Homo sapiens: one gene and its partners. The protein of the gene in region 2 interacts with the protein of the main gene of each other region in a pairwise test. Each region holds a gene or a part of one and is shown on either strand. Other genes may lie near its edges.

Region 1 (3,757 bases), on a different chromosome or scaffold from region 2:
AGTGGGTTAAATATGAATACTATCCTGGTAAATCTCATATTATAAAGCTACACATTTTATTTTTGATTAATTCTTTTATATAAAATATAAGGAAAGCTCATACCCTGTGTGCTACAATTCAGCTATCTGTGATACATGCTTTTTCCTTCCATTAGTTTTGCCTTTTTAAGAACAGTTCCCATACTTGAATGTATTCCAGTGGAATTATGAGCATTTTCCCATTTTACTCTTTAAATCCTTTTGCTTTTAACTATCCAGTGTTGACATTTGTTAAAAAAAAAAAAAAATCTGAGGTGTTTTGCTATTCAGTTTTTTCCACTGGCATTTTGCAATGGTTTATCACTGAAATTATATCAGACTACTTAAAAACAATGCCAGGACTTCATGAGTACCTCTATCAGGAACATGTGGGATAATAGGAAAATAGATTAAAAAAAAATTTATCTATATAGAGTGTATTTTTTCTGACTGTTGGGATAAAATGGTGGGTAGCCAAATCTCCCCAGGATTTGACGTAATTCTTCAAGAATAAAACTGATGCCAGAAAAATCTCCACCATGGCCTGGCACAGTTTGGGAAGGTTGATGTTGCTGAAATGTAAAATAAACCACAGAACCACATAAGGGCTCAAATAGTGCAATGAGAGGATTTACTGGTGATTTTCTTAAAATGAAACAATGGAAAAGACGGGTGTTAGATTTATAATACGTCTCACTATTTTCTCTGTCTTATAGGGATTTTTTAAGCGAACAGTCCAAAATAATAAAAGGTACACATGTATAGAAAACCAGAACTGCCAAATTGACAAAACACAGAGAAAGCGTTGTCCTTACTGTCGTTTTCAAAAATGTCTAAGTGTTGGAATGAAGCTAGAAGGTAAGATTCTTCTAAAGACTACTGCCTATTAAAACTCTCCAAGGACATGAACTGTAAAACAACATTGTACTTATAGCATGGTAACATTATTTTCCCAGCATTTTAACACTACCGACAATACTGTAAGATCTTTCTATGTTTCATCTGCAGAATAGTCTGAGTCTCATTTAATCATGGTGAAATCTACTAGGAAAAAAATTTAAAATATTAGTTGTCTTTCCCCTGCCCACCCCCTTTTTTTTAGTCTGGGGAGCAGATGCATTAGACACAAAAAAGGGAAAAAGATCAGGTTATGAAAATAAGACTAAAGCAATCCAACTGAAAACAAGAATAATTTGTAAAACTATTAAAAGTAAAATATTCTTTGAGTTTTTAAATCAAGATACCCTTGGAAAAGTTTGATTTCAATTCTTTTTAAAAGAGGTGTGCTTGTCACAAGTGTTAACTACTAATTTCATGATTCTTAAGAGTTAAAGCCTTTAATGGTGAAAAGGAGTTTCTCATGTAGGATATTATCTTTGATAGTGTAGAAATGTATTTTTTTAAAAGATAATGACTGAGGCTGCAAAATAAAAAATTGAGAATCAGGAAACATGAAAAATAACGAACTATTAAATCATTAGCAAAGGTCTGAAAAGAACAAGAAAGTGGCTCCTGAAAAGCCACACTTGAACTTTGTTGAAAGAGCAGACCCTATACTACAATGTACAGATTGGCAGGCAGTAAAGTTAATATGTGACTGCTGTAAATAATTTGTAGTTCATGGACTACTATGGTATGTTGCTGCTTTCTAGCCTCTGACCTGCTTGCTTTCCATGGATTAAATATACTGCAAATAAAGCAATAACAGGGATACATATCACCGATGGTGCTAGATACAAGAGTGCATTTTATTTGATCAATGAGGCACAGGCTATTTTTATTTGGAACTTTTCTGTTATATGGAACTCATACTTGATAGAAATACTAAAAAAAAAAATCATATAAATCTGCTGAATAGCTAACACGCTTCTTCCGAACAGAGGTAGCCACTTTGGTTATTATGAGGACTGTTAATGTCAGTATCATTTTTAAGAGATCATGAAAGGAAATAATTGATGCTTATTAATTTTCTTATTACCAATCACTATTATTTCCCAAATAGCAAAATATTGTGGTAGATGCTTACTACATACAGTAAGAGACTCAGAAGATAAGTAAATGTTGTGATTTTGCATGATGTCATTTAATTCCTTTTCAACAAAAATAATAAGGCTGCATTTCTTTACCTTAAATAATTAAACTTTCTTTTTTTTAAGTTAAGCTTTCACAATTGTAAATCACTTGTGGTACATGCTCATGCTTCCTTAGGAGTGATATGAAACAACTGAATATTCAATAAATTATCATCCAGATGAAAAACTCTTTATAATCTTGTGCAATATTCTGTATACTTAGAATTTACAATAAATTTTTAATGTGATACTAATCCAAGATAAAAAGCTCAAAAACTTAACCTCCAGCAAGTTCAATATGTCACAAGCTATCAGAGGTCTCTAGTTTCTGTCTAATTGCCATTGGCCACTATGGACTTAGAGGGAACTGCTAACTAACTTATTAGTCATGGCCGCAGACTCCACACACCACTGTCGCAGAAGACTCTCTTGACAGCTTCTGAAATGAATTTGTTTTAATTATGTCCAATTCTACTTAAATTAAAAGCAGTAACTGGTGGTCATCTGATGTGGGCTCATCAAGTCCAGGTGAACATGATTTTCCAAGAACATGTCCCCACCCCTTTTGTTATTGCAACAAGGTGGCCAAAATGGCTTTCAGGGAGGAAGGTATCTTGTGGGAAAGTATTCACAATTTAATCCAAAATTGGGTAACTCAGTTCCACACCCCTGCAAAAGAAAACCCCAAAGCAGTTTGGGTTTCCATAAGGAACTGGCATAATAAAAGCATATACTCTTAGTAGAACGACTGATACTCTTTCTTAGCAATGTGAAATATTTCTTTTCTTTTTTTTGAGACAGGGGTTTCACTCTTGTTGCCCAGGCTGGAGTGCAGTGGTGTGATCTTGGCTCACTGCAACCTCCACTTCCCGGGTTCAAGCGATTCTCCTGTCTCAGCCTCCTGAATAGCTGGGATTACAGGCACCCACCACTACGCCTGGCTAATTTTTTGTATCTTTAGTAGAGATGGGGTTTCATCATGTTGGCCAGGCTGGTCTTGAACTCCTGACCTCAGGTGATCCACCCGCCTTGGCCTCCCAAAGTGCAGGGATTACAGGTGTGAGCCACCGCACCACGCCTATGTGAAATATTTCTATGTCTAACAAAAATTATGAACTCTCCTCCATCCACAAAAGGGTTAATATGTCCCTATGTGGCCAAAGTATTTTTTTGATGACGACACACACTTGGAGGAAGGAATTCATAAATAAAGAGGACATGGTTTTTTGGGAAATCTTTGTGGGCTATTGTAACGAAAACAACCACACACATACCACTTCTTGTCGATTTACATTTCTAAATATCTGAAGAATGCTAATAATTTGCACCTTATTTATACCTTTCCTTCCTTCCCCCCACCCCACCCCCAACAGCTGTAAGGGCCGACCGAATGCGTGGAGGAAGGAATAAGTTTGGGCCAATGTACAAGAGAGACAGGGCCCTGAAGCAACAGAAAAAAGCCCTCATCCGAGCCAATGGACTTAAGCTAGAAGCCATGTCTCAGGTGATCCAAGCTATGCCCTCTGACCTGACCATTTCCTCTGCAATTCAAAACATCCACTCTGCCTCCAAAGGCCTACCTCTGAACCATGCTGCCTTGCCTCCTACAGACTATGACAGAAGTCCCTTTGTAACATCCCCCATTAGCATGACAATGCCCCCTCACG
Region 2 (3,757 bases):
AATCCTCCTGCCTTGGCCTCCCAAAGTGCTGGGATTATAGGCATGAGCCACTGTGCCCAGCCTCAAGTGCCATTTTGACTAGTAAAAATGGCATTTAATAATTACATATTCTATGCACGTATTTTTAACATATTCTTTTAAAAACTTTGTTGTTTTGCTATTGTTTTTTCTAGCAAGACAGAATGTTTCTCTAACCTAAACTAGTTCTGTACTAGTAAAAGAAAAAATAATGACATACCATTCCAAGTCGAACTTGTCCATGGTGCTCAAATACTCTGTTAAAATTATACAAACATTTTAATGTAATTCCATATACTATCCCCCCCCACAAAAAAAAATACAACTTTCCAATTGACCTCCTTTGTTTTTCTTTTTTTCTAATTCTGATTAAGAATGTCATAACGTGCATTTTTAGTGGAGTAAATAATTAACTTATGGAATACAATACACATAATTATAGGTATTGTAGACAGTCTCTAAAGACCATTTCCTGCTGGGGCAAGGGTAGGTGGCTAGTTCTTTCCCCATAGTCAGAAGGCAATAGGTCAGTTTCCCTGAAACACAGCTAAAATGAAGTACTGAGGAGTATTTATAGATAGAAAGGCTTAAAATGAATATATTTTACCTTTTTAAGATACGTAGGAAGGTTACATACCTTTTTCTCTTTGCCTTGAATAGAATGTCTTCTATTGTAGCTTTAAGTGATCCAGATTCATCTTCTTTAAGAATCTCCCTATAAGTCATAATTATTTGTTTGAAAAGACAAGCTAAAATGATTACTAGCCCAAATGAAATGAAAATATATGTCCACACAAAGATTTGCATGTAAGTGTTCATGGCTGCATTTTCCTAACAGTCAAAAACTGTAAAGAACCTAAATATCCACAGACTAGTGAATGGATAAACAATAATGTGGCATAACCATAGATGGGAATACTATTCAGCAATAAAAAAGGAATGAAGTATTAATACACACTGCAACATGGATGAGTCTTAAAAATAAGTGAAAGCCAGCCACAACAGACCAACTATTATAGTCATGCATCGCTTACTGACAGGGATACATTCTGAGAAATGCATTGTTAGGCAATTTCATTATTGTGTGAATATCACAGGGTATACTTACACAAACCTAGATGGTATAGCCTATCCCACGCCTAGGTTACAAACCTGTACAGCACGTTACTATACTGAATATCTTAAGACAACTGTAACACAATGTTCAGTATTTGTATATCTAAACATACATAGAAAAGGTAGAGTAAAAATACAGTATTATAATATTATGGGACCATTGTCATATATGCAGTCTGTCTTTGACCAAAACATCATTATGTGGCACATGATTGTATATGATCACATTTTTGTGAAATGTCCAGAAAAGGTTAAAATTTGGAGACAAAAAGTAGACTAATGATTGCCCACAGGTGGAATTAAATTAAGATTTAAATTAATTGTAAATGAATGTGAAGGATCTTACTGGAGTGGTTACAATATTCTAAAACTGGTTTATGATAATGGCTGCACAGCTCAGTAAATTATTAATAAAACATCACTGAATTGTACATTGGAAATGGGTGAATTTTAACATATGTAAAATATACTTTAATAAAGTTGTAAAGAAAAAAAAAGACATTGTCTAAAAGAAAAGACAGGGCAATAAAGCTCTCCTTACCATGTTCTTTCATAGCCTCCTTCCCATCGCTTAGTTCTTTCAGGTTCTTCATCCATTTTTTTCAAAACTGTATTTTATTATTCAATAATCTGTAAAAACCATTAGAATGTAAGTTATCTAAAGATGTTTGTTACAAAATTCATCCAATTAAATTTGAAAATTAGACACATATATAAAGTAAAAAAAATGGAATGCCAGGTCATCTTATTCTTTGTATTTTACTCAATAATTGTCTTAAAAATCTTCATAGAACTCCATTTCTCATTTCCAAGAAATAATATGAACTTATACACAAACTTGGTACCAATAAAAATAAGTGTCTTTTTACAATTTGTAAAAGAACAAAAATGCTTTATAGATGTGTCACATGACAAACTGTAGACTTGTGAGGAGTCAGTATGGGCGTAGTTGAACTATTATAGCTGAGTGACATGTGATTCATTGTACTATCTCTCTGTGTATGTCTCAATTTTCTCATAATCAAAAGTTTTTAAATCACATTTATTATTTATAAATGGGTAAATGCTATAGCTCATAATTCAAAAAAAAAGGACACAAAATTAAACATAGTTCTTTGAGACATCTCCAAACTGCTTTCCATAGTGGCTGAACTAATTTACATTCCTACCAACAGTGGATAAGCATTCCCTTTTCTTCACAACCTTGCCAACATCTGTTATTTTTTGACTTTTTAATAATATCCATTCTAACTGGTGGTGAGATGGGTTTGTGGTTTTGATTTACATTGTGGTTTTGGTTTGCATTTCTCTAATGATCAGTGATGTTGAACATTTTTTCATACATTTATTGGACACATGTATGTCGATCCAACAATCCCAATACTGGGTATAAACCCAAAGGAAAATAAAACCATTCTACCAAAAGTACAAGAGCACTCATATTAATCACAGCACTATCCAAAATAGCAAAGACATCACATCAACTTAGATGCTCATAAATGGTGGACTGGATAAAGAAAATGTGGTACGTAATATATCATGGAATACTAGCAGCCAAAAAAACAACGAAAAAAAAACACAATGAAATCCTGTCTTTTGCAGCAACATGGATACAGCTGGAGGCCATTATCCTCATCGAATTAACACGAACAGAGGCCCAACGCAATGGCTCACGCCTGTAATCCTAGCACTTGGGAGGCCAAGGCAAGTGGATCACCTGAGGTCAGGAGTTTGAAACCAGCCTGGCCAACATGGTGAAACCCTGTCTCTACTAAAAATAGAAAAAAATTAGCCAGATGTGGTGGCGAGCACCTGTAATCCCATCTACTCAGGAGGCTGAGGCAGGAGAATTGCTTGAACCCGGAAGGCAGAGAGGTTGCAGTGAGCCGAGATCGTGCCACTGCACTCTGGCCTAAAAAAAACAGCAACAGAAAACCAAAGACGGCATGTTCTCATTTACGAGTGGAAACTAAACACTGAGTACACGTGGACATAACGATGAGAACAACAGACATTGGAGACTATTAGACAGGGAAGGATGGGAAAGAGTGAGGGTTGAAAAACTGCCTATCAGGTACTATGTTTACTACCAGGGTGACGGGATCATTTGTATACCAAACCTCAACAACAAGCAATTTATCCATGTAACCAACATGCACACGTACTCTGTGAAAATAAAAGTTGAAAACAAAACAAAACAAACAAACACAGGCCAGGGCCAGGTGCAGTGGCTCCATCCCTGTAATCCCTGCACTTTTGAGAGGACAAGGTGCGGATCACCTGAGGTCAGGAGTTCGAGACCAGTCAGGCCAACATGGCAACACCCGTCTCTACTAAAAATACATAAATTAGTTGGGCATGGTGGCAGGTGCCTGTAATCCCAGCTACTAGGGAGGCTGAGGCAGGAGAATTCCTTGAACCTGGAGGGCAGAAGCTGCAATGAGCCAAGGTCACACCACTTCACTCCAGCCTGGGTGACAGAGCAAGACTCCGTCTCAAAAAAAAAAAAAAAAAAAAAAAACCAGGCCGGGTATGATGGCTGACATCTGTAATTCTAGCACTTTGGGAGACTAAAGCAGGTGATCACTTGAGGTCAGGAGTTTGAAAATTAGCTAGGAGGTTG
Region 3 (3,757 bases), on a different chromosome or scaffold from region 2:
CCTGTCTCAAAAAAAAAAAAAAAAAAAAGTATTCAGGTTATATTTTATGTTCAGTGAGATTTTATATAGTTTGTCATACTGTCTTGTTCCATTCTTATTATGTTTATTTATCATTACGTTTATTCTAATAGAGATTGGTTTACTTAGACTTTCTGCCTATATATCATCTGCAAATAATTACCTCACCCCTTCCAGTATTTGTTGTCTTACATTATTGCATTAGTGTAAGCTCCAAAATATGGAAAATCATGTTAACTTTGAACAGCTTTTTTACATAATTTAATGAGAATGAACAGTGTTTTAACACAGTATAATTTGTGCTATTGGCTTTTGATATTCATCATGTTTAAGAGATTGGCTTTTATATCTGTTTCATTCTAAAAAATGTCTGCCAAAAATTATCCAGTTTTCACATTTATATATTTTATTTTTCACTTTAAAATTATAACACAGTGGATTATGTTGCCTTTTTGTTCTTGGGATAATAATAGTTTACACTTATTGAGCATTTGCCATGTGCCAAGCACTGTCCTAAGGACTTTCTACTTACCTATCTAATCTTTATAACAACCCCATGCTGTAGGAACTATTATGATTTCCATTCTAGAGATGAAAAAACTAAGATAGGAAGGGGAAGTAATTTGCCCAAGGTCACGTAGACAGTAGTAACAATCCTATGTTTTTCTTTGCTTCAGGTTTTGATTTGCTGGTATTTTATTCAGGATTTTATTATATACCTGTTCATAAGTGAGCATTTTCAGTAATATTTTTCTTTATTCTCACATCAAATTTGAATTATATGTTACCATTGAAAAAGAAATTGGAAGTGTTTCATCTTTTTTTATGCTATGGGATAATAAGAATCATAGAAATTATCTGATCCTTGTAGGCTGTACACAGCTGTCTTGTAAAATCATTAAGCTTGATAGCTTATTTAGTGGTAGATGGTAGAAATTTAGCAAATATTTGAATTTCTTTCTTTTTTTTTTTTTTTTTTTAATATGGTTTCACTCTGTTGCCCAGGCTGGAGTGCAGTGGCATGATCACGGCTCATTGCAGCCTTGACCTCCCCGGGCTTATCTTCCCACCTCATCCTCCCTGGGAACACAGGCATGCCCCGCTATGCCAGGATAATTTTTCTATTTTTTGTAGAGATGGGGTTTCACCATGTTGCGCACGCTGGTCTCGAACTCCTGGTCTCGAGTGATCCGCTCGCCTCAGCTTCCTAAAGTCCTGGGATTATAGGCATGAGCTAACATGCCTGAGCTTGAATTTCTAGTATAGTTACGGATCTGATCATTTATTCTGCCTTTCCTTAATTGTAGATATAGAGCTTTTTAGCATAATAATTGCTTCTCTATATTAAAAATTTACCGATAAAAAGTTGCATTCAGCATTCCAGTAATTCTCTTAATCTCTTAGTAGTTTTAAATTTCCATTTTCATTCTAATGTTATCTATATTTTTTTCTTAGTTGGGCTTTCCAAGGGTTTGTCCATTTTATTCAGCTTTTCAAGAACCAACTTTCATTTTATTAATTCTCATTTTTCTTTGATTTCAGAATCACCACTGTTGTCTTTATTAATTTCATCCGTATACATTCATCTTTTATTTACTTTGTTGTTTTTCTAGGTTTTTAAAAGTTGAAGTCTTAGTACACCTAGGTTTTTAAAAGTTGAAGTCTTAGGACATCTCTCTCTCTCTCTCTCCCCCCTCCCCTCCCCCCTCCCTCCCTGCTCCCCCCCCATATATATATAACTTTCAAGTTTGGGGTACATGTGCAGGTTTGTTACATAGGTAAACTTGTGTCATGGGAGTTTGTTGTACAGATGACTTCATCACCCAGGTTTTAAGCCTAGTACCTGTTAGTTATTTTTCCTAATCCTCTTCCTCCTCCCACCCTCTGCCCTCCGATAGTGCCCAATGTGTGTTGTTCCCCTGTATGTGTCTATGTGTTCTTTCCGTTTTGCTCCCATTTATGAGTAAGAATATGCGGTATTTGATTTTCTTGCATTAATTTGCTAAGGATAATGGCCTTCAGATCCACGCATGTTCCTGAAAAGGACATGATCTCGTTCTTTTTTATGGCTGCATTCCTTAGTATATTTTTAAATAAAAATCATTTATTTTATGCCATGTATTTTATATTTTGGTTTTGTTTTGTGTTTTTTTCTTCACAGCAGAAAGTAAAGGCTAATAGACCAAAAACTTTTAAAAAGACAGTAGCTAAAGTAAACATCTCCATTTCACTTAAAAAATGTATAATAGTTTTAACCAGTCAGGTAAATACATTTTTAAATGCTAATAGTCATTTATTCATCAAATGTTTATTGAATGCCAGTTCTTTTTCAAAGAGATTAGATTTTGTTGGTGAAATAGACAAACCAGAATAAGTACTGTTAAGAGAAATAGAATACTGTGGAAACACATGGTATTTTTTAGGGTAAAATATTAAGTATCCACTTCCTTCATTCTTCAAAGATTAGCATAAAATTTCTCTTTGTGATTTTGTTGTTGTTGTTGTTGTTGTTTTGTAGGGGAGACAGCATCTCACTTGGTTGCCCAGACTGGAGTGCAGTGGCATGATTAATAGCTTATTGCAGCCTCTAGCTCCTGGGCTCAAGTAATCCTCCCACTTTAGCCTCTGAGTAGCTGGGACTACAGGCATGCACCACCACACCTGCCTAATTTTTAAATTTTTTTTAGAGACAGGGTCTTGCTATGTTGCCTAGGCTGGACTCAATCTGCTGGCCTCAAGCAATCCTGCCTCAGCCTTCCAAAGTGCTGGGATTACAGACATGAGCCACCACACCCACCTGTAAAGTTTTATTACTTGTCTGTACTTTAGATTTTGCATAGATATTTTCCGTAATTTATAGTTTCAGAAATACACCTGATGGAAGTAAATAACACTTGCTCGGCATCTTGTAACTCAAATTTAGGGCTGTCTAGCTCCTTTATTTCTTCTGGAAAAATCTAGAAAGAACATATTGTCTTCTATCCTGAATATATAATCTCTAGTAACCAGGGTTTAAGTAATAGTAGATGAATTAGACTGAATGAAGACTTGAATTATAGCTTTGACAGAACTGCAGAGTTTGCAGAATACTAAGTTTTGTAATATGGGAATTATACCGGGGTGTGAACACAGGGCTAATTGTTCATTCATTCATCTCCTGTATATTTAATGAACACTTGATGCTAGGTCCATTTCTAGGTTCTGGGAATACAGCAATGAATCAAATAGACAAAAATTTCTGCCCAAGTTGTTTTCTTATAATGGAGGATATAGACAATAAGGCATATAAGTAAAATTACATGAATGATAGCGGTAAGTATTAGGGAGTGAAAAAAGGGAGGAGGAATAGGAAGTATCAAAGTCAGGATAAGGTGTTACAATTTTAGATAGGATGGAGTACTAATTGATGTATGCCAAATAACAAATCACCTCAAAACACAGTGGTTGAGACCATGAGCGTTTATTTCTTGCCCACAGATTTGTGGTTGACTGCAGTTTGTCTGCTCCAGGCCTGATTTGACTGGGTGGCTGTGCTTCAGCCTTTTCGTGGAGAGGGGCAGATACCTGGATTTCTATTTAGGTTATGTTGTGATGTTAGACATCCAGGAGAGATTGAGTAGGCTATCAAATTACTGGTAGTTAAAGGAGCGGTCAGGGTTGGAGATAGAAATTGAAAGCCTTGAGACTAAATGATATAGGACCAAGTATGGATAGAAAAGACTTTTTAGGACTGAACTCC

What was found.
Region 1: the proteins of GTF2H2C (region 2) and NR5A2 interact in binary tests that used the Homo sapiens proteins (3 or more experiments, as listed by UniProt).
Region 3: the proteins of GTF2H2C (region 2) and DZIP3 interact in binary tests that used the Homo sapiens proteins (3 or more experiments, as listed by UniProt).

The regions. Positions count from the first base shown.
Region 1 is NC_000001.11:200,044,709-200,048,465, forward strand, and holds part of NR5A2 (nuclear receptor subfamily 5 group A member 2), read left to right. Parts: intron 1-734; coding exon 735-876; intron 877-3,463; coding exon 3,464-3,757. UniProt on the Homo sapiens protein: Orphan nuclear receptor that binds DNA as a monomer to the 5'-TCAAGGCCA-3' sequence and controls expression of target genes: regulates key biological processes, such as early embryonic development, cholesterol and bile acid synthesis pathways, as well as liver and pancreas morphogenesis.
Region 2 is NC_000005.10:69,563,107-69,566,863, reverse strand, and holds part of GTF2H2C (general transcription factor IIH subunit 2-like protein), read right to left. Parts: intron 1,765-3,757; 5' UTR 1,732-1,764; coding exon 1,676-1,731; intron 734-1,675; coding exon 656-733; intron 276-655; coding exon 239-275; intron 1-238. UniProt on the Homo sapiens protein: Component of the core-TFIIH basal transcription factor involved in nucleotide excision repair (NER) of DNA and, when complexed to CAK, in RNA transcription by RNA polymerase II.
Region 3 is NC_000003.12:108,592,698-108,596,454, forward strand, and holds part of DZIP3 (E3 ubiquitin-protein ligase DZIP3), read left to right. Parts: intron 1-3,757. UniProt on the Homo sapiens protein: E3 Ubiquitin ligase proteins mediate ubiquitination and subsequent proteasomal degradation of target proteins.